3 separate regions of the Homo sapiens genome follow, and regions 2 and 3 are each linked to region 1. Evidence: fine-mapped expression QTL. A gene starts in region 1. Each other region holds a variant in brackets. All regions are shown on one strand. Distances are from middle to middle.

Region 1 (8,183 bases):
TATTTTATTTTATTGAGACAGAATCTCACTCTGTCGCCTGGGCTGGAGTGCAGTGGCACAATCTTGGCTCACTGCAACCTCCGCCTCCCAGGTTCAAGCGATTCTCCTTCCTCAGCCTCCAGAGTAGCTGGGTTTACAGGCATGTGCCACGGCGCCTGGCTAATTTTTGTACTTTTAGTAGAGACGCGGTTTCACCATGTTGGCCAGGCTGGTCTCGAACTCCTGACCTCAGGTGATCCACCTGCCTCAGCCTCCCAAAGTGCTGGGATTACAGGCATGAGCCACCCCAATCATCTTAAAGCCTAGACTTGAAAGTCCCATGACATCACTTCCACTATTTCCATTGGTCAAACAGTTACAGAGTCAACTCCAGTTCAAGGAAGAGGAAATAAAGCCTACCTTTCGATGTAGGAGTGGCCTGTGCAAACAGCAGGAAAGAATGATAGTGGGCACCTACACAGACTATCTTGTAGAGTGTGTCACTCATTTGGCTTAGATTTTGAGTCTAGAGCAGTGTTTCCACATGTCACTCACTACAAGATCACCTACAGGTTCCATCAAACTCTGCCAATGTTTGCCAGGCGCAGTGGCACACGCCTGTAAATCCCAGCATGTTGAGAGGCCAAGGAGGTTGGATTACTTGAGGTCAGGAATACAAGACCAGCTTGGCCAACATGGTAACACCCCATCTCTACTAAAAATACAAAAATTAGCCAAGTGTGGTGGCACGTGCCTGTAATCCCAGCTACTCGGGAGGCTGAGGCAGAGGAAGCCCTTGAACTCAGGAGGCGGAGATTGCAGTGAGCTGAGATCACACCACTACACCCCAGCCGGGGCAACAGAGCAAGGCTCTGTCTCAAAAAAATTCAGCTGAGCCAGAAGTTTGAGGTTACAGTGAGCCATGATTGTGCCACTGCATTTCAACATGGAGAAACCCCGTCCCTACTAAAAATGCAAAAAATTAGCTGGGCATGGTGGCATGTGCCTGTAATCCCAGCTACTCAGGAGGCTGAGGCAGGAGAATCACTTGAACCCGGGAGTCGGAGGTTGTGGTGAGCCGAGATCACGCCATTGCACTCCAGTCTGGGCAACAAGAGTGAAACTCCATCTAAAAAAAAAAAATTTCTAAAAAAATTCAGATGGTGTATGGTATGAATCATTGTGAAGACAAAGCAGGGTGATATGACTGTGTTTGTGCCTGTGTGTGTGTTTAGTGCTTTAGAAGTTCTATCCGAGAAGGAGACATTGCAGCAGAGACTTGAATGGCAATAGAGAGCAAGCCAGGAGGAAAGAAAATTCTAGGCAAAAGGAACAACAGGTGCACAGGTCCTGAGGCAGGAATATGCTTGGTGTGTTCAGGAATGTTAGTGTGACATGGGGTGAGATATAGGGAGAGATATATCACCTGAGATCAGGGAGGGGAGCAGAGACCAAATCAATTAGGGTCAGAGTAGTTTGTTTTCTTAAATGGAGTCAGGGTCTCCCTCTGTCACCCAGGTTGGAGTGCACTGGCACAATTACGGCTCACTGCAGCCTCGAACTTCCGGGCTCAAGCAATCCTCTCACCTCAGCTTTCTGAGTAGCTAGGACTAGAAGCGTGGGCCACCACACCCAACTAGGGTCTGAGTTTTATCCCAAATGCAATGGGATGCCATTCGAAGCTGTTTAGGTTGGAAGTTTTTTGTTTTGTTTTGTTTTGTTTTGTTTTTGAGATGGAGTTACGCTCTTGTTGCCCTGGCTGGAGTGCAGTGGCATGATCTTGGCTTACTGCAACCTCTGCCTCCTGGGTTCAAGAGATTCTCCTGCTTCAGCCTCCCAAGTTGCTAGGACTACAGGTGTGTGCCACCATGCCCAGCTAATTTTGTATTTTTAGTAGAGACAGGGTTTCACTATATTGGTCAGGCTGGCCTCAAAACCCTGACCTCAAGTGATCTGCCTGCTTTGCCCTCCCAAAGTGCTGGAATTACAGGCGTGAGCCACCGTACCCGGCCTAGGTTGGAAGTAACATGATTTAATACATGATTTTTCAAGGATCCCTCTGGCTACTGTATTGGGAGTGCCCTGTAGAGGATGAAAGGGAGAGAAGCAAGGAGAGTAGCTAGGAGACAGGTGCAGTTGCTGAGGTGAAAGGCCATACACGTGTGAGCATTTCATCTCTGGGTTCTCAGCATCTAACGCAGTATTTTATTTTATTATTTTTATTTTATATATATATATATTTGAAATGGAGTCTCACTCTGTCGCCCAGGCTGGAGTGCAGTGGTGCAAGCATGGCTCACTGCAGCCTTGACCTCCCCTACTCAGGCAATCCTCCCACCTCAGCCTCCTGAGTACTTGGGAATACAAGCAGGCGCCACCACACCAAGCTAATTTTAAAATTTTTTGTAGAGACTGGGTATCTGCTTTGTTGCCAAGGCTGGTCTTGAACTCCTGGGCTCAAGCAATCTCTCGGCCTTCCAAAGTGTTGGGATTACAGGCCTGAGCCACTGTGCCCTGGTGGAAATATATATATATATATTTTTTTGAGACAGAGTTTCGCTCTTGTGGCCCAGGCTGGAGTGCAGTGGCGCGATCTCGGCTCACTGCAACCTCTGCCTCCCGGGTTCAAGTGATTCTCCTGCCTCAGCCTCCCGAGTAGCCAGGATTATAGGCGCCTGCCACCATGCCCAGCTAATCTTTTGTATTTTTAGTAGAGACGGGGTTTCGCCATGTTGGGCAGGCTGGTCTGGAACTTCTGACCTCAGGTGATCTGCCCACCTTGGCCTCCCAAAGTGTTGGGATTACAGGTGTGAGCCACCGTGCCCGGCCCAGAAATGAGATATTTAATTTTTTAATTTTTACTTTTTTTTTTTTTGAGACGGAGTTTCACTCTTGTTGCCCAGGTTGGAGTGCAATGGTGCCATCTCGGCTCACCGCAACCTCTGCCCCCAGGTTCAAGTGATTCTCCTGCCTCAGCCTCCTGAGTAGCTCGGATTACAGGCATGTGCTACCATGCCCAGCTAATTATGTATTTTTAGTAGTGACGGGGTTTCTCCATATTGGTCAGGCTGGTCTTGAACTCCCGACCTCAGGTGATCTGCCTGCCTTGGCCTCCCAAAGTGCTGGGATTACATTCGTGAGTCACCGCGCCCAGCCAAAATGAGATATTTTAAATAACATAAGTAAACAGAAATATATCATGATTTTAATGATAATTCATGCTCTGAAAATAAATGAAGAAAGGAATAGGAGTAGGGAAAGCTGGGATCAGAGTGGGCAGGAAGTTAAAATAGAGCAGTTAGGGAAAGCCTCACTGAATAAGTGACATTTGGACAATGACCATGGGGAGATTAGGGAATGGGTTATTTGAATTTTCTGGGAAAATACTGTTCTAGGCAGAGGAAATAGCAAGTGCACGATCTTTAAGGCCAGAGTGTGCTAAGCACGTTGGAGAGGCCGAGTCCATTGTAGCTGAGTTACAGAAGTGAGTGGAAGAGAAGAAGGTGATGAGTTTAGAGAGGGAAGGGCAGGGCAAGAGACGGGCTGTATGGGGCTTTGCAGGTTACTGCAAGAATTTTGCAGGAGGGACAGAGACTGACTTGGTTCTTACCAGGATTCCTCTGGCTGCTGTGTTGAGTATAGACTCTAAGAGGAAAGAGTGGAAGCAGGCAGAACACTGAGGAGGCTGTTGCAGTGGTCCAGGTGGGAAATGATGGTGCTGACCGTGGAGGTGGTAAGTGGTCAGATTATTCTATTTTATTTACACTCAACACATCTAATACTGACTCAATATTATCTAACATACAGTCCACATTGAAATTGCCCCCCAAATTCTTTTTACATAAAAAAATCATCCTGAATCCAATCAAGTCTCACCTATTGCTTTTGGTTTTCACCTCTTTCATGCTGTCATATTTTAAAAGACTCCAGGCTAGATGTTGTGTAGAATGTCCCACATTCTGAATTCGTTTATTTTTTCAAGTAAGCTTTTTGTGTGTATGTGGCAAGAATACGACAGAGGTAGCAATATGCTTTCCCCACTGCATCATATTAGGAGACACATAACAACAGTCCTGACCCATTATTGGTGGTGCTAAGTTCGATCACTTGGTAAGGGGGTGCCTGCCAGATCTTTCCATTGTAAAGCAAGCTGTTCTTTATTGTAAGTCATAAATACGCTGTGGGATGATACTTCGGGACTAAATATACCCTGAATATACTGCTGCCCAACAACATTTCACCCAGTGACTTTAGCAGCTAAGGAACAGCCTCGTGGCTTCCGACCTTGTGCCTCAGTTCGCTCATCTGAAAAATGAGGATGATCATGGTCCCTACCGGATGCTTGTTTTGAGGATCCGTGCTTGGCATACCAGAAACGCTCCACAAATGTTAGGTATTACTGGACGAAGGCAAATATGAAAAAAATTAAGGGCAGGGCTAGGACTGCATTCCGGTTCTCCGGATCCCGAGGGAGCTCCCAGTCGATGCTGGGCGAAAGCGGCCGCACGAGCCCACGTCGCCACGCCCTCCGCCGCGGAAGCCAGGGTGGGGGTCGCTGGAACCCTAGGCCGGCCGCGCAAGGCCCCCTGGGACCGGTAGTGCTGGGCGTGGCCTCGGGACTACATATCCCAGTGGCCCCCGTGCGGCGACTTTAGCTGCTGCTGTCTCAGCCGCTCCACAGCGACGGCAGCGGCTGCGGCTTAGTCGGTGGCGGCCGGCGGCGGCTGCGGGCTGAGCGGCGAGTTTCCGATTTAAAGCTGAGCTGCGAGGAAAATGGCGGCGGGAGGTGAGTGGAGATAAAGGAGGAGGCGGTGGCGGGCGAGGGGGTGGAGTGCGAGGCGGAGGGAAGAGGGGCGAGTTCCCCAGGCTGCGAGAGCCAGCGGCTTCAGATCTGCCAAGGCACTGAGGGGCGCGCCGGCCGGGGGACGCGCTGAGGTAGTTTCGGGGTGTCGGGGCCGCGCCGCTTCCCCTCAGCCCGGGGGGCGGCCCGCGGCGGTAGGAGCTGAGACGAAGCTGGGTGGCAGTCCGCTTGGGGATCCGAGGGGGTCCCCGCGCGGAGGGGTCACCCGAGGAGTTTGCGGGGGGACTGCAGGGGCCCACTTTCCCCTTCTGTCCCTAAAGTTTTTTCTTCCTCTTGCCTCCCCCAGCCCTTTTGAAAGCTCCCCGCGTCGTCCTCCTGCTGCCCCGGCTCCTTAGCAGCTTCTGGGACGCACGGGAGGGAAAAGCCGCGGGGACCCCCCCCACCCCAGCCTCCCAGCCGGGTGAGATTTGGTTGCTGTGTTTCCTCCTCACTTGGGCATTTAAAAAATATTTTAACACGAATTGTCCGCGGAATTTTCATGTTGGGCTCGGGTAGCTTCTTAGTTTTCTCGGTAAAAAGGCGTTTTACTACCTCTGGTGTGAAGGCTGGGAAATGGCAAGTGGGAAGTTGGTTGATAAAATTAGGAGTTTGGCTGTCTTTATTACTACTTTTTTTTTTTTTTTGCTCTCCCCATCTCTCATTTTATGAACATCGACCCAGTTCGTCATGGTTTAAATAAACTGCTTGTCTTGTACCTGCCTTAACAAAACTAGCCATGGGTCGTTGGGAGACTTAGTTGCTTCCTAGGCAGTTTGAGGGCATCTAGGGTGGAAAAGTTAACCGAGAGAGCGAGCATCTACCTCACTGGCAGGATCTGGGATTCCCAAATGGAATGACACGGAAGCTATGAGATTCTCTCGAAGTCGAAACTTTTTTCCCCCTCCCGAATGCGAAGACTTCCTTTTTGCAATATTTGAGCAGGGCTTCAAAACCAACCTGTTTTTGTTATTAAGCCTGTACGGTAAAGAAACAGGAAGGAGAGTACCAGCTGTCTTGCTGCAGTGGTTTTAAATGGAGTTGAATGAGATGCGTGAGAGTGGTAGTAGTATTGAGTAAGATTGCTGCATCTCTTTGATTTAAATGCCTGGCCTCGGATCCACCTAACTGATCCCTGGCTGCAAAAAAGCTTCAGTATTTGTTGCAGCAGGTTGTTGAGAAGGTGATTGGAGGAATAAAAATCTTAGGTCTTCAGCGAATGCTGCACAAACGAAAATGTTAATGGAAACCTGTAAGTTTGTGAATTGTTTGTTCTTGAAAATATTTTAAATGTATGCTCATTTAGAATATGGTTCTACCGAATGATATCCAATTGGAAAGGTACAAACACATTGAAAAGTGAATCTCTCTTTCACGCCAAACCCTACAGTTTCCCCTTCTCAGAGGCAAAGACTGTTACTGGTTTTTAGAATATCCTTGGTCTTTGGAATAATTATTTTAAGATTTTCATTTGAAACCACTTCTGTTGGATACCAAAAGCAGGGAAATAAAATGAACAGAAGAAACAGAAAATGTGGGAATACTGTTTTTGCTCTCTTAAAAAAAATGTTGATAGCTATTGGAAAAAGCTCTTCAGAACTTACTGCTTATGTCACCTTATCTATTAATACCGTTAAATAACAATCTGTGGGGCTTTAGGATAAAGAACTCTGCCAGGGTTCATTGTTTGTATGTACAATGAATCCTCTGCTTGTAACATGTAAAATGATATTGAACACTATAGCTCCTGTCACTAGAGGTTGCTTCAGGTTCTGCATTTCAATGAGCAGAAATCTAAATTGCCTGTGATCCTAAATTATAGGGGCATTTTATGTATAGATGGAAATGACTTAATTGTCCAATCAGCATTTGAAATAAGAGGCATATACCAGCTTTTGGCATATAGAAGATGGGGATTGTGGACTAAGCGGGAGGCTGTAATATTTCTAGAGCAGTTATAGGAAATATTTCTGCCATAAGATATTTAATTACAAAGGCTTTGAAAATGTACAACTTAAGCATCAATAGCGAGATTTATATTTTTATATTTTAGAATGGTTGTTTTAACAGCTTGCCAACACTAACAATTTGCTAAGGAAATTCAGTGATATTAGAGCTAGGTTATTAAAGATTATATTAAATAATTTAACTGTATTTTGAAAATGATTATGCTGTGCATTTCCTTCTCTGTATAAAAATTATTTCTAAAAAGTGCCACGCACCTCCCGAGCAAATAAAATAGAATTCAGTAAGGAGTGAAGTACTGTTGTACGTGAGACCCTTTTTCTAGGCGATATGCAAATAAAAAGTAGTTTAAAAATGGTTGCTTACTAATGTCTTCTTGACTGGTCTTTTGAAATAAGCTTTCTTGCAGGGACATTACATTAAAGATAAAAGCTAAGTGTGTCTTTTTTTTTTTTTTTTTTTTTTTTTAACGAATTCAGTTCTTTCTGCCGGGCTGCAGTGGCTCAGGCCTGTAATCCCAGCACTTTGGGAAGCCAAGGCTGGTGGATCACGAGGTCAGGAGTTTGAGAACAGCCTGGCAAAGATGGTGAAACCCCTTCACTACTAAAAATACAAAAAATTAGCCGGGCGTGGTGGCGAGCACCTGTAGTTCCAGCTACTCAGGAGGTTGAGGCAGAAGAATGGCTTGAACCCGGGAGGCGGAGGTTGCAGTGAGCCGAGATTGCACCACTGCACTCCAGCCTGGGCAACAGAATGAGACTCTGTTTCAAAAAAAAAAAAAATTCTGTCTTGTGCATTAGCAGTATGATTCTGGAATAATTCATTTTAACTTGGAGTACTGTAATTGAAAAGTCTTTAAAAGAAAATTAAAAAATAAATTTTAGTTTGGACAATAGGGTAAGATTTAAAAACTCTGCTATTGTCCTATCCCAAATTGATGGTTAAAATAAATGGCTTTGGGTTTTTGGTTTTTTTTTTTTTTTTTTTTTTTTTTGCGGGCAGGGGCGTTTTTTTTTTTTCTTTTCTTTCTTTTTTTTTTTTTTTGAGAAGGAAATTTGCTCTGTTGCCCAGGCTGGAGTGCAGCGGCGCGATCTTGGCTCACTGCAACCTCTGCCTCCTGGGTTCAAGCAATTCTCCTGTGTCAGCCTCCCAAGTAGCTGGGATTACAGGTGCGCACCACCACGCCCGGCTATTTTTGTATTTTTAGTAGAGACAAAGTTTACCATGTTGGCCAGGCTGGTCTCGAACTCCCAACCTCAGGTAATCCACCTGCCTTGGCCTCCCAAAGTGCTGGGATTACAGGTGTGAGCCATCACGCCAGCCTGCATTTTTTAAAAACTATATAATTTCACACTTTGGCCAGAGGAGGTAGAGTACTTTTGAAAACTTTTAATTTGTTGCA
Region 2 (8,183 bases), 90 kb before region 1:
AGTGGCTCACACCGCGGCACTTTGGGAGGCCGAGGCAGGCGGATCACCTGAGGTTAGTCTGGCCAACATGGTGAAACCCCATCTCTACTAAAAATACAAAAATTAGCCAGGCATGGTGGTACGCGCCTGTAGTTCCAGCTACTCGGGAGGCTGAGGCAGGGAGAAACCCTTGAACCCGGGAGGCGGAGGTTGCAGTGAACGGAGATTGCACCACTCACTTCAGCCTGGGTGACAAAAAAAAGTCTCAAAAAAAAAAAAAAAGTAAAAAGATAAACAGAATTATAATTATAACAAAATTTATTGACTCATAGAATTGGAAATCCCAGGAGCCTCGTGAGCTTCAGGCACAGCCAGAATGATGGCCACAGGGTAAGTACTTGTTGATCTCCCCCTGGAGACCCTCATGTCCTCCATGTTGGCTTCTCAGGAGGAGAATCTCAGGCAATAGTGCCCCCTGTAGCTCCCCAACTTCAAAAACCAGAGTATAGAAAACTACATCTTACTGGCAGGTCTAGAAAAATGTCGCCAAACCTGGATCATGCATCCACCTTTTTTTGTTTGTTGGTTTTTGAGACAGTCTCGCTCTGTTGCCCAGGCTGGAGTGCAATGGCACGATCTCAGCTCACTGCAACCTCCACCTCCTGGGTTCAAGCGATTCTCCTGCCTCACCCTCCTGAATAGCTGGGATTACAGGTGTGCACCACCATGCCTGGCTAATTTTTGTATTTTTAGTAGAGACAGGGTTTCACTATGTTGGCCAGGCTGGTCTTGAACCCCTGACCTGGTGATTCACCTGCCTCGGCCTCCCAAAGTGCTGGGATCACAGGCATGAGCCACCGCACCTGGCCTATGCATCCACCTTTTGAAGGGAATGTTGAGGTCAGCCTTCTCTGAACACGTGGGGTGAGAGTGGATGGGCAGTGGCTTTCCAGTGGAGAGGAGGAAGTTGTTGCTTGAAGCAGGGAGGATTTTGAGCAGGCAAAACCAGCAGATGTTTACTACCTCAAGCTCCATGAGGCCAGGGAAGGTGCTGGGTCCTGAGCACCACTGTATGCCCAATGACTGGCACAAATTAGACTCAGAAAATACTTGTATGAACAAGGGCAATTGTGTTGTATGATTGGGTATCCATGGACAATTTACATATTTGAAAAGGTAACAGAAAGATTTGTAGGGCATGATGGCTCATGCCTGTAATCCCAGGACTTTGTGAGGCTGAGGTGGGAGGATTGCTTGAGCCCAGGAGTTCAAGACCGGCTTGGGTAGCACAACAAGATGCCATCTCTACAAAAAATTAGCTGGGTGTGGTGGCATGTACCTGTGGTCCCAGCTACGTGAGGGGCTGAGGCAGGAGGATTGCTTGAGCACAAGAGGTCAAGGCTGCAGTGTGCTATAATCCTACCACTGCACTCCAGCCTGGGCAACAGAGAAAGACCACATCTCAAAATAAAAAAACAAAATAAAGAAGGATAGACAAATAGGTTAGTGGAAGAGAATAGAAAGTCCAGCTAGCTGGGTGCGGTGGCTCACGCCTGTAATCCTAGCACTTTGGGAGGCCGAGGCGGGCGGATCACAAGGTCAGGAGATCGAGACCATCCTGGCTAACACCGTGAAACCCTGTCTCTACTAAAAAAATACAAAAAATTAGCCGGGCGTGGTGACGGGCGCCTGTAGTCCCATCTACTTGGGAGGCTGAGGCAGAAGAATGGTGTGAACCTGGGAGGTGGAGCTTGCAGTGAGTGGAGATGCGCCACTGCACTCCAGCCTGGGAGACAGATCAAGACTCCGTCTCAAAAAAAAAAAAAAAAGAAAGAAAAAGAAAGCCCAGCTGAGACTGACACATATATGGCCAAATTATCTTCAACAAAGTCACCAGGGTAATTCATTGAAGAAAATCAATTTTGTATTTCAACAAATATTACTGGGACAGGCCAGGTGCAGTGGCTCATGCCTATAATCCCAGCACTTTGGGAGGCTGAGGCAGAAGGATCACTTGAGGCCAGGAGTTTGAGCAGCCTGGGCAACAAAGGGAAACCTCGCCTCTGTCTAAATAAATAAATAAATAAAATTCACTGTTGAGAAAAAGAAAAGGCCACTGAATTGTATACTTTATTTCATTTTATTTATTTATTTTTGAGACTGAGTCTCGCTCTGTCACCCAGGCTAGAGTGCAGTCTCATGATCTCAGCTCACTGCAACCTCCGCCTCCCTTCAAGCGATTCTCCTGCCTCAGCCTACTGAGTAGCTGGAATTACAGACATGCACCACCATGCCCAGCTAATTTTTGTTATTTTTAGTAGAGATGGGGTTTCACCATGTTGGTCAGGCTGGTCTCCTGACCTCGTGATCTGCCCACCTTGGCCTCCCAAAGTGCTGGGATTACAGGTGTGAGCCACTGTGCCCGGCCTGAATTGTATACTTTCAAATGGTTTGGCCGGGTGCTGTGGCTCAACGCCTGTAATCCCAGCACTTTGGGAGGCTGAGGCAGGTGGATCATTTGAGGTCAGGAGTTTGAGACCAGCCTGACTAACATGGTGAAACCCCATCTCTACTAAAAATACAAAAAAAAAAAAGAAGATAAAGAAAGAAAGAAAAAGAAAGTAGCTGGGTGTGGTGGCATAGTCCCAGCTACTTGGTGGCTGAGATGGGATAATCACTTGAACCCGGGAGGTGGAAGCTGCAGTGAGCCGGGATTGTGCCACTGCACTCCAGCCTGGGCAACAAGAGTGAAACTCCGTCTCCCCACCAAAAAAACCCCAAAAAACATTATATCTTCCTGGCTAAGTGATTGGCTTATGGTAACTCAGACTGAGCCAACGAAGCCCTCCTCAGTTTGTTCTTGGAACTATTGTCAGGGGTATTTTCCCTTTCCATTGGTGTTGCTGTGCTGGTGAGAAATAACCCCAGAACCAGCAGGTAGGCAAAGCTACAGGAGAGGAAAGCCAACTTGGAGAAGAACCGAGAGATGATAGAGAAATGGAAACCAGCCATGTTGAGCCCCTGGGTTCAGGTTCACCTGATGTCCTCCAAACTTTTTGTTCAGGCTAGTTTAGGATGTGCCTATATTTCTTGCAAATGAGTCTCCAAATACAAACCCCAAATCATTGTAGCAAAATGCACTGACCAACTGTGCTTCCACGATCAGATCAGTAAGCTGGGTGCAGTGGCTCATGCCTGTAATCCCAGCACTTTGGGAGGCCAAGGTGGGCGGATCACTTGAGGTCAGGAGTTGGAGAACAGCCTGGCCAACATGGTGAAACCCCATCTCTACTAAAAATACAAAAATTGGCCAGGTGTAGTGGCAGGCACCTGTAATCCCAGCTACTTGAGAGGCTGAGGCAGAAGAATCACTTGAACCTCGGAGGCAGAGGTTGCAGTGAGCTGATATCATGCCACTGCACTTCAGCCTGGGCGACAGAGCAAGACTCCGTCCCAAAACAAACAAACAAACAAACAAACAAACAAACAAAAACCAATGTGTAAGTGAACAGAGAGAACAAGAAGTTTAAGGAAAATTAAAAACATAAAGGACAAAGTGAGAGAAGAGAATATCTGTAAAATACATGAATACACACACACAGTAGATGTTTCATGGTTGTTTATCCCCCACCTCTCGCTGGAACACAGACTGGTGCCCCACTTCGTGCTTGGGATGTCCTTCCTCTGTTTCTTGGCTGAGTCGAACTTGTGCTGCTTCCTTTCTCCTTAAATATCCTTTCCTCTGGACAGGATGTTCCTGAAGGAGGCCACAAGGCAGAACATCTCGGCTAACTTTAGTTTGCTATTTTCAGCCTGAATTTGTGCCTGGGCAAATCAGTCCACGGACAGAGTATCCTCCCCAGTTGGATATTTCTTGCATGAGCATCAGAATTTTGTGGGACACAAGGCTTAGTTTCACTAAGCTCTGAGCCTCAAAACCTGGTATGCATCTGGGTTAGAGAGCCTCATCCAGTCTTTTTTTTTTTTTTTTTTTTTTGAGATGGAGTCTCACTCTGTCGCCCAGGCTGGAGTGCAGTGGCGTGATCTCAGCTCACTGCAAGCTCTGCCTCCCGGGTTCATGCCATTCTCTTGCCTCAACCTCCCGAGTAGCTAGGACTACAGGCACCCACCACCACACCCGGCTAATTTTTTGTATTTTTTTTTAGTAGAGACGGGGTTTCACCGTGTTAGCCAGGATGGTCTTGATCTCCTGACCTTGTGATCCGCCCGCCTCGGCCTCCCAAAGTGCTGGGATTACAGGCGTGAGCCACCGCGCCTGGCCCTCATCCAGTCTTAAAAAAAAATTCCCTGAGCTGTAGAATATATGGTGGACATATTTTCTGCATTCCTTTTTTGATGTAGGTAGGAAAAAAA[C/A]CCAAAAAACCCCAAATCACAATTGTCCCTCCAGGGAACTGAGAAGCTGGGGTACTTACCCATTGACTCCTGTATTCCATTGGTTAAGAAAAGCTTCTGGTGGCTTTAAGTCCCTAACACTTTTTTGGGGCTGTCTTGCATCCTGTGCTGGAGACAGCTCTTAGGTTAAGAGACACAGGTGTTCAGCCTGGGCAACATAAGGCGACACTGTCTCTGCCAAAAAATAAAAAAAATAAAAAAATAAAAGCCAGGGGGTGGTGCGTGCACCTGTGGTCCCAGCAACTCAGGAGGCTGAAGTGAGAAAATTGCTCGAGTCTAGGAGGTTGAGGCTGCAGTGAGCTGTGATCATGCCACTGCCAGCAGCCTGGGCAACAGAGCAAGACTTTGCCTCAAGAGAAAAGAAAAACAGTCAGATGCGGTGGCTCATGCCTGTAAACCCAGCACTTTGGGAGGCTGAGGCAAGTGGATTACTTGAGGTCAGGAGTTCAAGACCAGGCTGGCCAACATGGCAAAACCCCATCTCTACTAAAAATACAAAAATTAGCTGGGCGTGGTGGCTTGCACCTGTAATCTCAGCTACTTGGGAGGCTGAGTTAGGAGAATCACTTGAACCTGGGAGGTGGAGGTGTCAGTGAGCCGAGATCACCCCACTGCCCTCCAGCCTATGCAACAGAATGAGACTCCATCTCAAAATAATAAAAAAGAGACTAGTGTGGGAGGATCACCTGAGCCCAGGAGGCGGAAGTTGCAGTGAGCTGAGATCACGCCACTACAGTTTAGCTTGGGTGACAGAGTGAGACTCTCTCAAAAAAGAAGAAGAAGAAGAAGAGAAACAGATGTGTGTGTGAGGTGGGAGCTGCCAGCCTGTCCATCATAGTTGTAGCTAATCTCAGAAGCAGGCCAAGGGGATTTGCTATAGGGCACCAGCAGTATATGCTAGAAAGAGAATGTAGTACATGTACTGGCTTGTAGCACAGGGGACATTCTAGTTTTAGGCAATGCTGAATCAAGGGCCTCAAATAATGTCAACAGGACTTGAACTTTCACCATCTTTTAGTTCCTTACACCTTATATCCTCTATTAGTGGCTTCTCACAACTGTGGGCTTAATCCTACCAGTCCAGGAGCCCCAGTAGAACAGAGCATCCTTTCTAACACCTGAGCTGACTTTCATGGTCTTGCTTGAGTTCTGTGCCCAGTCCTGCTCTACGGCCAGGAAGCTGTGGCCCTCTGATTGACCAGATCTGAGCTAAACGCAGTGGTGTGTTGATAAATGTCTAACAATAGTCTTTTTGAGAAAATAAAAGTTTTGATTTGTAGTGTTTCCTGATTTCTATGATGTAAGTACCCCCATTAGCTTGAAACCATAGCCGATTTCAATTACCAATGTAGTGTCAACCGGTTTACAGAACTCTTGTCATGTCCCATCAGCTCTAGTGAGCTAGTTCGAGCCAGCTCAAACACAATGCTGGCTCATGTGTCTCCTGTTGAACAGAGGCAGTTGAGGCACCCCATGCATTCCACAGGGACTGAAGGTGGGGAAGGGAAATCGGGTGCTGTTGTCACGATTTGGGGGGCGAATAGTTGCTGAATGGGAAAAACCAGGTCTCCATCAATCATACAGACAGACAGAGATCCTGTCTCCAAAAAAAAAAAAACAAACCCAAAAAACTGCAACAAACATCTTGGTAAATATATCCTTATAATATAAAATTATATATCCTTTGTTTGTTTGTTTGCTTGTTTGTTTTGAGACAGGGTTCTCGCTCTGTCACTCAGGCTGGAGTGCAGTGGTGTAAACTCAGCTCACTGCAACCTCTACCTTCCCGGCCTCTACCTCCCTCACTATAACCTCAACCTCACACCTCAGCCTCCTGAGTAGTTGGTAACATAGGCATACACCACCATGCCTGGCTAATTTTTTGTATTTTTGGTAGAGAGAGGGTTTCACCATGTTGCCCAAGCTGGTCTCGAACTCCTGAGTTCAAGCGATCCACCACCTTGGACTCCCAAAGTGCTGGGATTATAGGTGTGAGCCACCATGCCCGGCCACCTTATATATCCTTATATGTTGTCTTTTCTATAACACTGGTCAGCAAACCAAGGCCCACAGAAAACCAAACCCAGTCTGGCACCTGTTTTTGTTTTTGTTTGTTTGTTTGTTTGTTTGTTTGTTTATTTATTTATTTATTTATTTATTTTAGATGGAGTCTCCCTCTGTTGCCCAGGCTTGAGTGCAGTGGTGTGATCTTGGCTCACTGCAACCTCTGCCTCCCAGGTTCAAGTGATTCTCCTGTCTCGGCCTCTCGAGTAGCTGGGACTACAGGCACGCCCCACCATGCCCGGCTAATTTTTATATTTTTAGTAGAGACGGGGTTTTACCATGTTGCCTAGGCTGGTCTTGAACTCCTGACCTCAGATGATCCACCCGCCTCGGCCTCCCAAAGTGCTGGGATTACGGGCATGAACCACCTTGCCTGGCCTGGCACCTGTTTTGTAAACAAAGTTTTGCAGGAACACAGCAAACTCATTCATTTACATAATGTCTGTAGCTGCTTTTGCAGTACCCCAGCTGAATGGAGTCATTCAGAGACTGCATGGCCCAGAAAGCCTAAAATATTTACTCTCTGGCACCCTTTACAGAGAAAGTTTGTTAACCTCTGCTCTATAATATAGGACCTACATTATGGAAAGGGAAAAAGATATATGTTTTAAAAAATTTAACAGACAGCCGGATACAGTGGCTCACATCTGTAATCCCAGCACTTTGGGAGGCCAAGGCGGGTGGATCACCTGAGGTCAGGAGTTCAAGACCAGCCTGACCAACATGGCGAAACCCCGTCTCTAATAAAAATACAAAAATTAGCAACGCATGGTGGCACACACTTACAATCTCAGCTTCTCAGGAGGCTGAGGCAGGAGAATAGCTTGAACCTGGGAGGTGGAGCTTGCAGCGAGCCAAGATCACACCACTGCACTTCAGCCTGGGTGACAGAGCAAAACTTTGTCTCAAAAAAAAAAAAAAAAGAAGTGTACAAAGAAGAAAGCCCACTCTTCTATCGCAATTACCAGTTTGGTGTAATAGTCCAATCAACACAATAATCAATACACACACACACAGTTTTGTCCTTTCTTAAAACAAAAACAAAAACAAAAACAAAAAAACAGGAATGGATCAGTAATTTCCTGTAGCTATTATCCCCGAAATACTTTTGTATTATTCTGCCCGTTTTCTGATAGCTCATAATCAAAGAAAGATCACTGCAGGTGTTTGGACACAAAAATCCTAGCAGCTGGTGCCCCTCGCAGCAGAATTTCAACCTGACACACTGGGAGCCAGAATGTTTGTTGGCTCTGATAAGCTAATAACCACATGTTTCAATGTCCCGTGTCCCTGAAGAAGCCATTTTCATGTGACTTTCCTGCTTCAGACCAGGCCCAGTTCACTGAGTTAAAAACCAAAATGCTCATCGTGGCCTACAAGTTCCTCCGTGACCTGGCCTGTAGCCAGTTTTCTGGTACCGCTCTTCCCCTTGGTCTCTGTGCCTTCTTTCACTTCCTCCAAGTTGCACCAAGCCCTTTCCGGCCTCGGACTGGGTTAGTCAGAACTCTTTCAGTTTCAAGTGACAGAAACCCAACTCGAACTGGACTAAGCCTTTAGAGTGTATTAGGCTCATACAACCGAAAAGTCCCAAGAAGGCCGGGCGTGGTGGCTCACGCCTGTAATCCCAGCACTTTGGGAGGCTGAGGTGGGCGGATCACCTGAGGTCAGGTTCGAGACCAGCCTGGCTAACATGGTGAAACCCCCGTCTCTACTAAAAATACAAAAAT
Region 3 (8,173 bases), 45 kb after region 1:
AACTGAGGTGGGAGGACTGCTTAAGCCTGGAAGTTTGAGGCTGCAGTGAGCTGTGATTGCACCTGTGAATAGGCAATTCCTAGGCAAGACCCTCTCTCTAAAAATTGGCCAGGCATGGTGGCTCATGCCTATAGTCCCAGCGCTTTGGGAAGCCCAGGCGGGTGGATCATTTGAGCCCCGGAGTTTGAGACCAGCCTGGGCAACATGGCGAAACCCCATCTATACAAACAATACAAAAATTATCCGGGCATGGTGGCACATACCTGTTGTCCCAGCTACTTGGGAGGCTGAGGCAGGAGGGAGGATGTCTTGAGCTGGGACGTGGAGGTTGCAGTTGGCTGAGAACACACCACTGTACTCCAGTCTGGGTGACAGCAAGACTCTGTTTCAAAACAAAGCAAAATAAACCTCCCAAACTCCTTAGTATTTATTATCTTCCACAGTTTCTGAAGGTTAGGACTCTGGGAGTAGCCTAGCTGGGGAGTTGTGGTTTTAGTACTCTTAATGGGTTGCAGTCATCTGAAGGTTTAACAAAGGCTGGAGGATTTGCTTCCGAGGTGGCTTACTCAGTGACCATTGGTGGGAGGTCTCAGTTTCTGCCTGAGTGTCCTAAAGCTACTGCCAGAGCTAGTGATCAGAGAGAAGGAGAAAAGGAGGAGGGAATTTGAAATGCCTTTGTGACCTCAGAAGTGACAGCTTGTCACTTTTCTTTTGGTCACATAGACCAACTTTGATACAGTATGGGAGGGGACTGCTTAAGTTCATGAATACCTAGAGATGGGTGTCACTGGGGATGTCATCTTGGTGCTGGCTACTACAGTGAGACTACTTCCCAGGGAGTGTGGTTTATCAGAAGACACATGACGTCTGTTTTTCTTTGAGTTGTTAATATTAGCAGATACTATAAAGAAAAACTTTTTCTTTCTTTCTTCTTCTTCTTTTTTTTTTTTCCTTTGGAGAGAGTCTTGCTCTGTTGCCCAGGCTGGAGTGCAATGGTGGGATCTCGGCTCACCGCAACCTCCACCTCCTGGGTTCAAGTGATTCTCCTGCCTCAGCCTCCCGAGTAGCTGGGACTACTGGTGCGCACCACCACGCCTGGCTCAGTTTTGTGCTTTTAGTGTAGACGGGGTTTCACCATGTTGGCCAGGCTGGTCTCGAATTCCTGACCTCAGGTGATCCACCTGCCTTGTCCTCCCAGGGAGCTGGGATTACAGGCGTGAGCCACTGTGCCCAGCCAAGAAAAGCTTTTTCTAATCAAGTATTTGGTCACCTGGTGTGGGTACAGTTTACATAGGAAAGATGTGATATATGTTAGACTCTATTTACTAGTATTTAAAATAACAAGTTGGTTTACTAGTATTCTCCTGTGGTAAAAAACATTTTTTTTCTCAAAGTTTAAAAAAAAACTATTTTGAAATAATTTTAGACTTTTGGGAATGTTGCAAAAATAGTAGAGTTTTCCTGTGTACTCCACCCCGATTCCCCCAATTTAATAACTTGCATAGCCATGTTATAGTGATCAAAACTAAGGCTAACACTGGTATAATACTGTTAACTAAGTAGCAGATATTGTCAAATTTCCACTCTTGTGTTTTTTTCTGTTCCAGGATCCAATCCTATTCTTTATTAATCTCTCCCTTTTGTTTTTTTGGGGTTTATTTTGTTCAAGTTTTTTTTTTTCAGTTAGGTGTAGGATGGATGTTCATGATAATGTATCTTTATTTGTCTTTTATTTAATACTACTTTTTTTTTTTTTTTTTTTTTCCCTTAAACGCAGGGTCTCACTGTCACCCAGGCTGGAATGCAGTTGTGCTGACATGGTTCACTGCAGCCTCAACCTCCTGGGTTTAAGCGGTCCTTCTGTGTAGCTGGGACCACAGGCATGTGTCAGCATGCCTGACTAATTGTTGTGGGTATTTAAAAAAATTTATGAAGTTTGTATTTTGTTTTAGATGTTGCCTTTATATTAAAATCCTTATGTAATAGACTTAGTGCCCCCCCAATTTTTTGGTTATTTTCTGTTGGTTTCTTACTTTGAATACTATTGAAATTACCTAGTAACTTCTTTTTCTTCCCAAGCATTTGATTTAAAGTAATATCTTTTTCTTTCAGTTGATATCAGGTAATCAGCCAGTTTTTTTTCCAGTTTTTATCTCTTCATACTTCAGTTTATGGATAGTTGTGCTCTAGCTACAATGTTGGAACATATAGTCATTATGTAGTATAAAGTGTCACTTAGAACCCTCATTCAGGTTTTTACAGATAAATATATATTTAATGCCCACTACCATTTTTATGTTGATATGGACTTTCCAGTTATTTGGGTCATCTGGAATTCATTTTCTCTAATAAATTCCTCAGGAAGAGCTTATGGGAACAGTATTCCTTGTGTTCCCCTATGTTTGAGAAGTTTGTCTGCAGCTTTAATAGTTAAAAGCTGGCTTGGTGATGATAAAATTCTGTTCCACAGTATCTGAAATATGTCATTCCACTGTCTTCTGGCACAGAGCATAGCTGTTACAGTATGATGATGTCGACCTGTTTTTCTTTGAGCAATGTAGCTTTTTTTTTTTTTTTGTAATTGTTTAGATATCCATAGGATTTTTTTTTTTTTTTTTTTTGAGAAAGAGTCTCACTTTGTTGCCCAGGCTAGAGTGCAGTGACAGGATCTCGGCTCACTGCAACCTCTGTCTTCCGGGTTCAAGGGATTCTCCTGCCTCAGCCTCCCTAGTAGCTGGAACTACAGGCATGTACTACCACGCCCAGCTAATTTTTGTATTTTTAGTAGAGATAGGGTTTTGCCATGTTGTCTAGGCTGATCTCGAATTCCTGACCTCAGGTGATCCACCTGCTTTGGCCTCCCAAAGTGCTGGGATTACTGGCGTGAGCCACTGCGCCTGGCCTTTGTAATCTTATTGGTGTTGGTTGGTCTGACACATTTTTCCTTGGGCATTCAGTGAGTCTTTTCAATATGTATTAATAGTTTCAAGCTTCCTTCCCCTCTTCTTTTTTTGTCTCTGTTTTTCTCAATATCATGAAGGTTTTCTTAGTGCTGTTTTTTTTTTATTTGCTTTTTGTTTTTTTTGTCTTACTGCCTTGGTTTTCTTCTTTGGGATTCCTACTATACATATATTGGATCATCTTTGTGATATATATATGGAGACACGGTCTCGGTCTGTCGCCTAGGCTGAAGTGCAGTGGTGTGATCATGGCTCATTGCAACCTCCACCTCCTGGGCTCAAGCGATCCTCCTGCCTCAGCATCCTGAATAGCTAGGACTATAGGGGCATGCCATCATGCCTGGTTAATTTTTGTATTTTTTATAGTGATGGGGTTTTGCCATGTTGCCCAGGCTGGTCTAGAACTCCTGAGCTCAAGTGATCCTCCCACCTCAACCTTCCAAAGTGTTGGGATTACAGGCATGAGCCACTGTGCCAGGCCTGTATATTGTTTATGTGAGATAAACCTCTCTTTTGTTTCCTCACTTGTATATCCAACTGTCCTCTGAACCTTTTCATTTAGATTTCTAATGGACAACTGAAACTCAACATGTCCCAAACCAATCTCATCATTTTCCCTGTAAGATCTTCACTAAAGCCTTTTCTTTCTCATTGTTGGTAATTCATTCTTGCTGTTGCTTAGGCTTAAAAACCTTGACTACTCTTTTATCTCCTTGCTATTTTTAAGATATATGTAGTGTCTGGCCACATCTCAGTAATTCCATTGAACCAACATTTTCTGTGAGTTATTGTAATAACATCCTAATAAGTCTTCCTGCATTTTACTCTTGTTTCCTTGTATCCTGTTAGTAACGTAACAGCTGGAGGGATCTTTTACAATCCTAAACCGGTTTGTCATTCCTCTCTTCTAGACTATGTAGAGGTTTCTTATTTCACCCGGAGTAGAAATGAAAGTTCTTACTTTGTTTCAATGAGACTCTGTGACTTGCCTCTGTTTTTTTTTTTTTTTTTTTTTAAGACCGAATTTCCCTCTTGTTGCCTAGGCTGAAGTGCAGTGGCGCAGTCTTGGCTCACTGCAACCTCCGCCTCCCGCATTCAAGTGATTCTTCTGCCTCAGCCTCTCGAGTTGCTGGGATTACAGGCATGTGCTACCACGCCCAGCTAATTTTGTATTTTTAGTAGAGATGGGGTTTCTCCATGTTGGTCAGGCTGGTCTTGAACTCCCTAACTCAGGTGATCTTCCCGCCCTGGCCTCCCAAAGTGCTGAGGTTACAGGCATGAGCCACCGCTACCGGCCTGCCTCTGTTACATCTCTGATCTCACCTATCATTCCTGTCTTCCTTGTTCATTCTTGATCCAGTACCGTTCTTCATCCAGTGCAGGCACATTCTTGCCTTTGGGTATGCCCTTTCTTGGAATGTTTCTGTCATATGTCTGATTAAGTTCCTCATCTCTTTAAAGTCTCAATTCTTACACTCTTAATGAGGCCCACCCTTACCACCCTATTTAATACCGGAACCTCTGACCTTATAGCACTAATGCTCTAATATATTAATACTTTACTTATTTATTGTGTTTAATTATAAAGCATATGCTCCACAAGAACAAGAATCCTAGTCCCCATTGCTCACTGACATATCTCAAACACTTAGGTAGGTGTCTGGCATATGGTAGATGTTCATCATTCATTTGTCGAGTGAATAAACACACTCTGTATTTCCTTGAAAGGGTGACGTCCTAAAGCCCTTCTCTTACCCCATCTGTGGCGTTAAGATGTTTTTCTGGGTCACAGCATATCGTTTCTCTTTAAACCCTGTGGTGGGAGTACTTTAGGAAAGTTCCTAGTTTTTGTTGATTTTATTTTATTTTT[A/ATAT]TATTATTATTATTATTATTATTATTTTAGACGGAGTCTCGCTCTGCCACCCAGGCTAGAGTGCAGTGGTGCGATCTCGGCTTACTGCAAGCTCCACCTCCCGGGTTCACACCATTCTCCTGCCTCAGCCTCCTGAGTAGCTGGGACTACAGGCGCCCATCACCATGCCCGACTAATTTTTTGTGTGTGTGTTTTTAGTAGAGACAGGGTTTCACCACATTAGCCAGGATAGTCTCGATCTCCTGACCTCGTGATCCACCCGCCTCGGCCTCCCAAAGTGCTGGGATTACAGGCATGAGCCACCGCGCCCGGCCCGTTTTGTTATTTTTTGAGATGGAGTGTCGCTCTGTCACCCAGACTGAAGTGCAGTGGCATGATCTCAGCTCACTGCAACCTCCACCTCCTGGGTTCAAGCGATTGTCGTGCCTTAGCCTCCCGAGTAGCTAGGATTACAGGCGCCTGCCACCACCCCCTGCTAATTATTTTATTTTATTTTATTTTTATTTTTAATAAAGATGGGGTTTACCAAGTTGGCCAGGCTGGTCTTGAACTCCTGACCTCAGGTTATCCACCTGCCTCGACCTCCCAAAGTGCTGGGATTATAGGTGTGAGCCACCATGCTCAGCCTTTGTTGGTTTTATTTTAGCTTCCCGTCTCTTTAGGCTGGAACTGTTTCTAGAAATCCATTTAAGATGGAAGTTGACTCTGAAATTGGTTAAATAAAGTTAGGGTGATTTGTTAATATAGAGGAATTGTGAGTTACCACCTGTCATATATATAAGAGAATTTCTTATTTGTTTTCTTACTCTCTAAGCCTAATAAAAAAAGGTTCCTTTAAAAAAAAAAAATTCATTCTAGGCCAGGTGCGGTGGCCCACACCTGTAATCCCAGCACTTTGGGAGGTTGAGGCAGGCAGATCACCTGAGGTCAGGAGTTCCAGACCAGCCAGCCCAACATGGCGAAACCCCGTCTCTACTAAAAATACAAAAAATTAGCTGGGCATGGTGGCAGGCGCCTGTAATCTCAGCTACTCGGGAGGCTGAGGCAGGAGAATCACTTGAACCTGGGAGGCAGAGGTTGGAGTGAGCTGAGATCATGCCACTGCACTCCAGCCTGGGTGGCAAGAGTGAAACTCCATCTCAAAAAATAAAATAAAATAAAAATAAAAATTAAAAAAAAATCTTTTTTACTGCATTTTCAGTGGCAGTTTGAGAAGAAGGGGTGGTACATGTCGATAGACATTAACATGCAATTGAGAAATGCTTTTAAAAAAGTGTGCATGTATATTATGCCTTCTCAATGTTTTTATTCTGTTTCAGCAAATCAGTAGAGTTGCAGTAATCTAGAAAGGATTAATTATGTCATGATGGTTTACTGTGTAGTCTCCCCAAGAAGGGCCACTCTGTTCTGCGTACTGCTGTTAGGCACAAGATGTGAAATAATATCTGTGAGGTCTTCATTTGGTGAATATGATAAAATCAATAGCATTTTAAAGGGTCTCCTAAAAATACCATTTAATGAATTTTAAAAATTAATAGTGAATTATTATTATTGAGAACATTTGTTAAATTAGTGTTTTCTTGGTTTGGATTGGATGTAATGCATAAACTTCAAAGATGTAAAAACTGTATTTAAAACATTTTTTAAATTTTTTGTAGAGATGGGGGTCTCACCACGTTGCCTAGGGTGGTCTCGAGCTCTTGGGCTCAAGTGATCCTCCCACCTCAGCCTCCAAAAGTGTTAGATTACAGTCCTGAGCCATCATGGACTTAACTATCCTTAATTTTGTATCACCTATGGAGAACATGTATTAACTTTGTAATAAAAAAGTTTTTAGGCCTGGTGCAGCAGCTCTTGCCTGTAATGCCAGCACATTGGGAGGCTGAGGTGAGAGGATCACTTAAGCCCAGGAGTTTGAGGCCAGCCTGGGCAACATGGCAAGACCCCAGATTGACAAAAAATTAAAAAAAAAAATTAGCTGGGCATGATGTGGTTAAAAAAAAATTTATCTGGGCACAGGATGACAGGTACCTGCGGTCCCAGCTACCCGGAAGGCTGAGACATGGCAATCACTTGAGACCAGGAGGTTGAGGCTACAGCAAACTATGATCTGTCTGCTGCACTCCATCCTGGGCAACAGAGCGAAGACTCTGTCTCAAAAAAAAAAAAAAAAAAAAAGTCTTCTGTATTTTGTATAAATTGGTGGTGGTTGGATCTAGAGGCTTGAGCACAGATGATTTAATGAGATCAGTTTCCAGGTTTGCAGATTCACAAACCTTTGTTCTCTTAAATTCTTCTTCTTTCTTCTCTTTTTTGGGGACAGAGTCTTCCTCTGTCACCAGGCTGGAGTGTAGTGGCACAATCAAGGCTTATTGCAGCCTCTACCTCCCAGGCTCAAGAAATCCTCCCACCTTAGCTTCTTAAATAGCTGGGACTACAGGCGCACGCCACCACCATGCCTGGCTAATTTTTGTAATTTTTTGTAGAGACATGATTTCACCATGTTGCTTAGGCTGGTCTCAAACTCCTGAGCTCAAGCAGTCTGCCTACCTGGGCCTCCCAGAGTGCTGGGATTACAGGCGTGAGCCACTGTGCTGGCTGTTCTTTTAACTTTTTAAGTTGGCCTGAGAAAGCTTGCAGAGCCTTATTCTCCAGATGTCTCTTTTTACAATTATTCTTCTAACTGCCAAAAGAAGTAAGAAGTCTCCCGTTTTACTGTGTTGTATTTCAATTTTTTTTTTTTTTTAAAAGGGTTTGAAGTCCAGGCGCGGTGGCTCACACCTGTAATCCCGGCACTTTGGGAGGCCGAGGTGGGCAAATGACCTGAGGTTGGGAGTTTGAGACCAACCTGACCAACATGGAGAAACCCCATCTCTACTAAAAATACAAAATTAGTCGGGCATGGAGGCACATGCCTGTAATCTCAGCTACTCGGGAGGCTGAGGCAGGAGAATTGCTTGAATCCGGGAGGCAGAGGTTGCTGTGAGCTGAGATCGTGCCATTGCACTCCAGCCTGGGCAACAAGAGCAAAACTCCGTCTCAGAAAAAAAAAAAAAAAAAAGGTGGGGGGGTTTGAAACACATGGGCAATTAGAAATACTGGTGTCAGAGTTTAACAAGTGAATGACTCTCAATGACTGATTAACAAACGACCTATTAGTTGGTTTCTAAGTGTGTTTTCATCAGAATTGAGGTGGAAGTTAATCAAATTGCTCTCTGAGAGATCATGAAAACATAATTTTTGATGGTAGTTCACTGAGACTCTTATCATGTAATTAAGATTATACTGAAAGAATTGAATGACATCGCTTTCACATAACTCCTTCCATGTATTTAATCTACTT

Direction of the effects. Positions count from the first base shown, and alleles are read on the strand shown. Sizes are in standard deviations (SD) of each study's normalised expression. Not every link is listed here.
For the expression in Th2 cells of the gene that starts at base 4,633 in region 1, ATAT is the low allele of the variant in region 3 and A is the other (large effect, 1.2 SD a copy in Schmiedel 2018).

Evidence for each region. PIP is the estimated chance that this variant, and not a neighbour inherited with it, causes the effect.
Region 2: its variant is fine-mapped to the expression of NCOA3 in whole blood (INTERVAL, PIP 0.95).
Region 3: its variant is fine-mapped to the expression of NCOA3 in Th2 cells (Schmiedel 2018, PIP 0.92).

The regions. Positions count from the first base shown.
Region 1 is chr20:47,497,255-47,505,437 of GRCh38, forward strand. NCOA3 (nuclear receptor coactivator 3) reads left to right here and starts at 4,633. Exons shown (of 23, transcript NM_181659.3): 1 at 4,633-4,765. RefSeq lists a cis regulatory region at 3,549-3,621 and a silencer at 4,873-4,992.
Region 2 is chr20:47,407,658-47,415,840 of GRCh38, forward strand. It overlaps LINC01754 (long intergenic non-protein coding RNA 1754), which reads right to left and starts at 4,487. Exons shown (of 3, transcript NR_146496.1): 1 at 4,413-4,487. RefSeq lists enhancers at 2,751-2,940, 5,138-5,297, 7,031-7,080 and a silencer at 8,122-8,171. The variant C/A (reference allele first, on the strand shown) is at 4,354.
Region 3 is chr20:47,542,574-47,550,746 of GRCh38, forward strand. All of the region lies in intron 1 of NCOA3 (nuclear receptor coactivator 3), which reads left to right. Among named protein-coding and RNA genes, the nearest start is that of NCOA3, 45 kb to the left of the region's middle. The variant A/ATAT (reference allele first, on the strand shown) is at 4,831.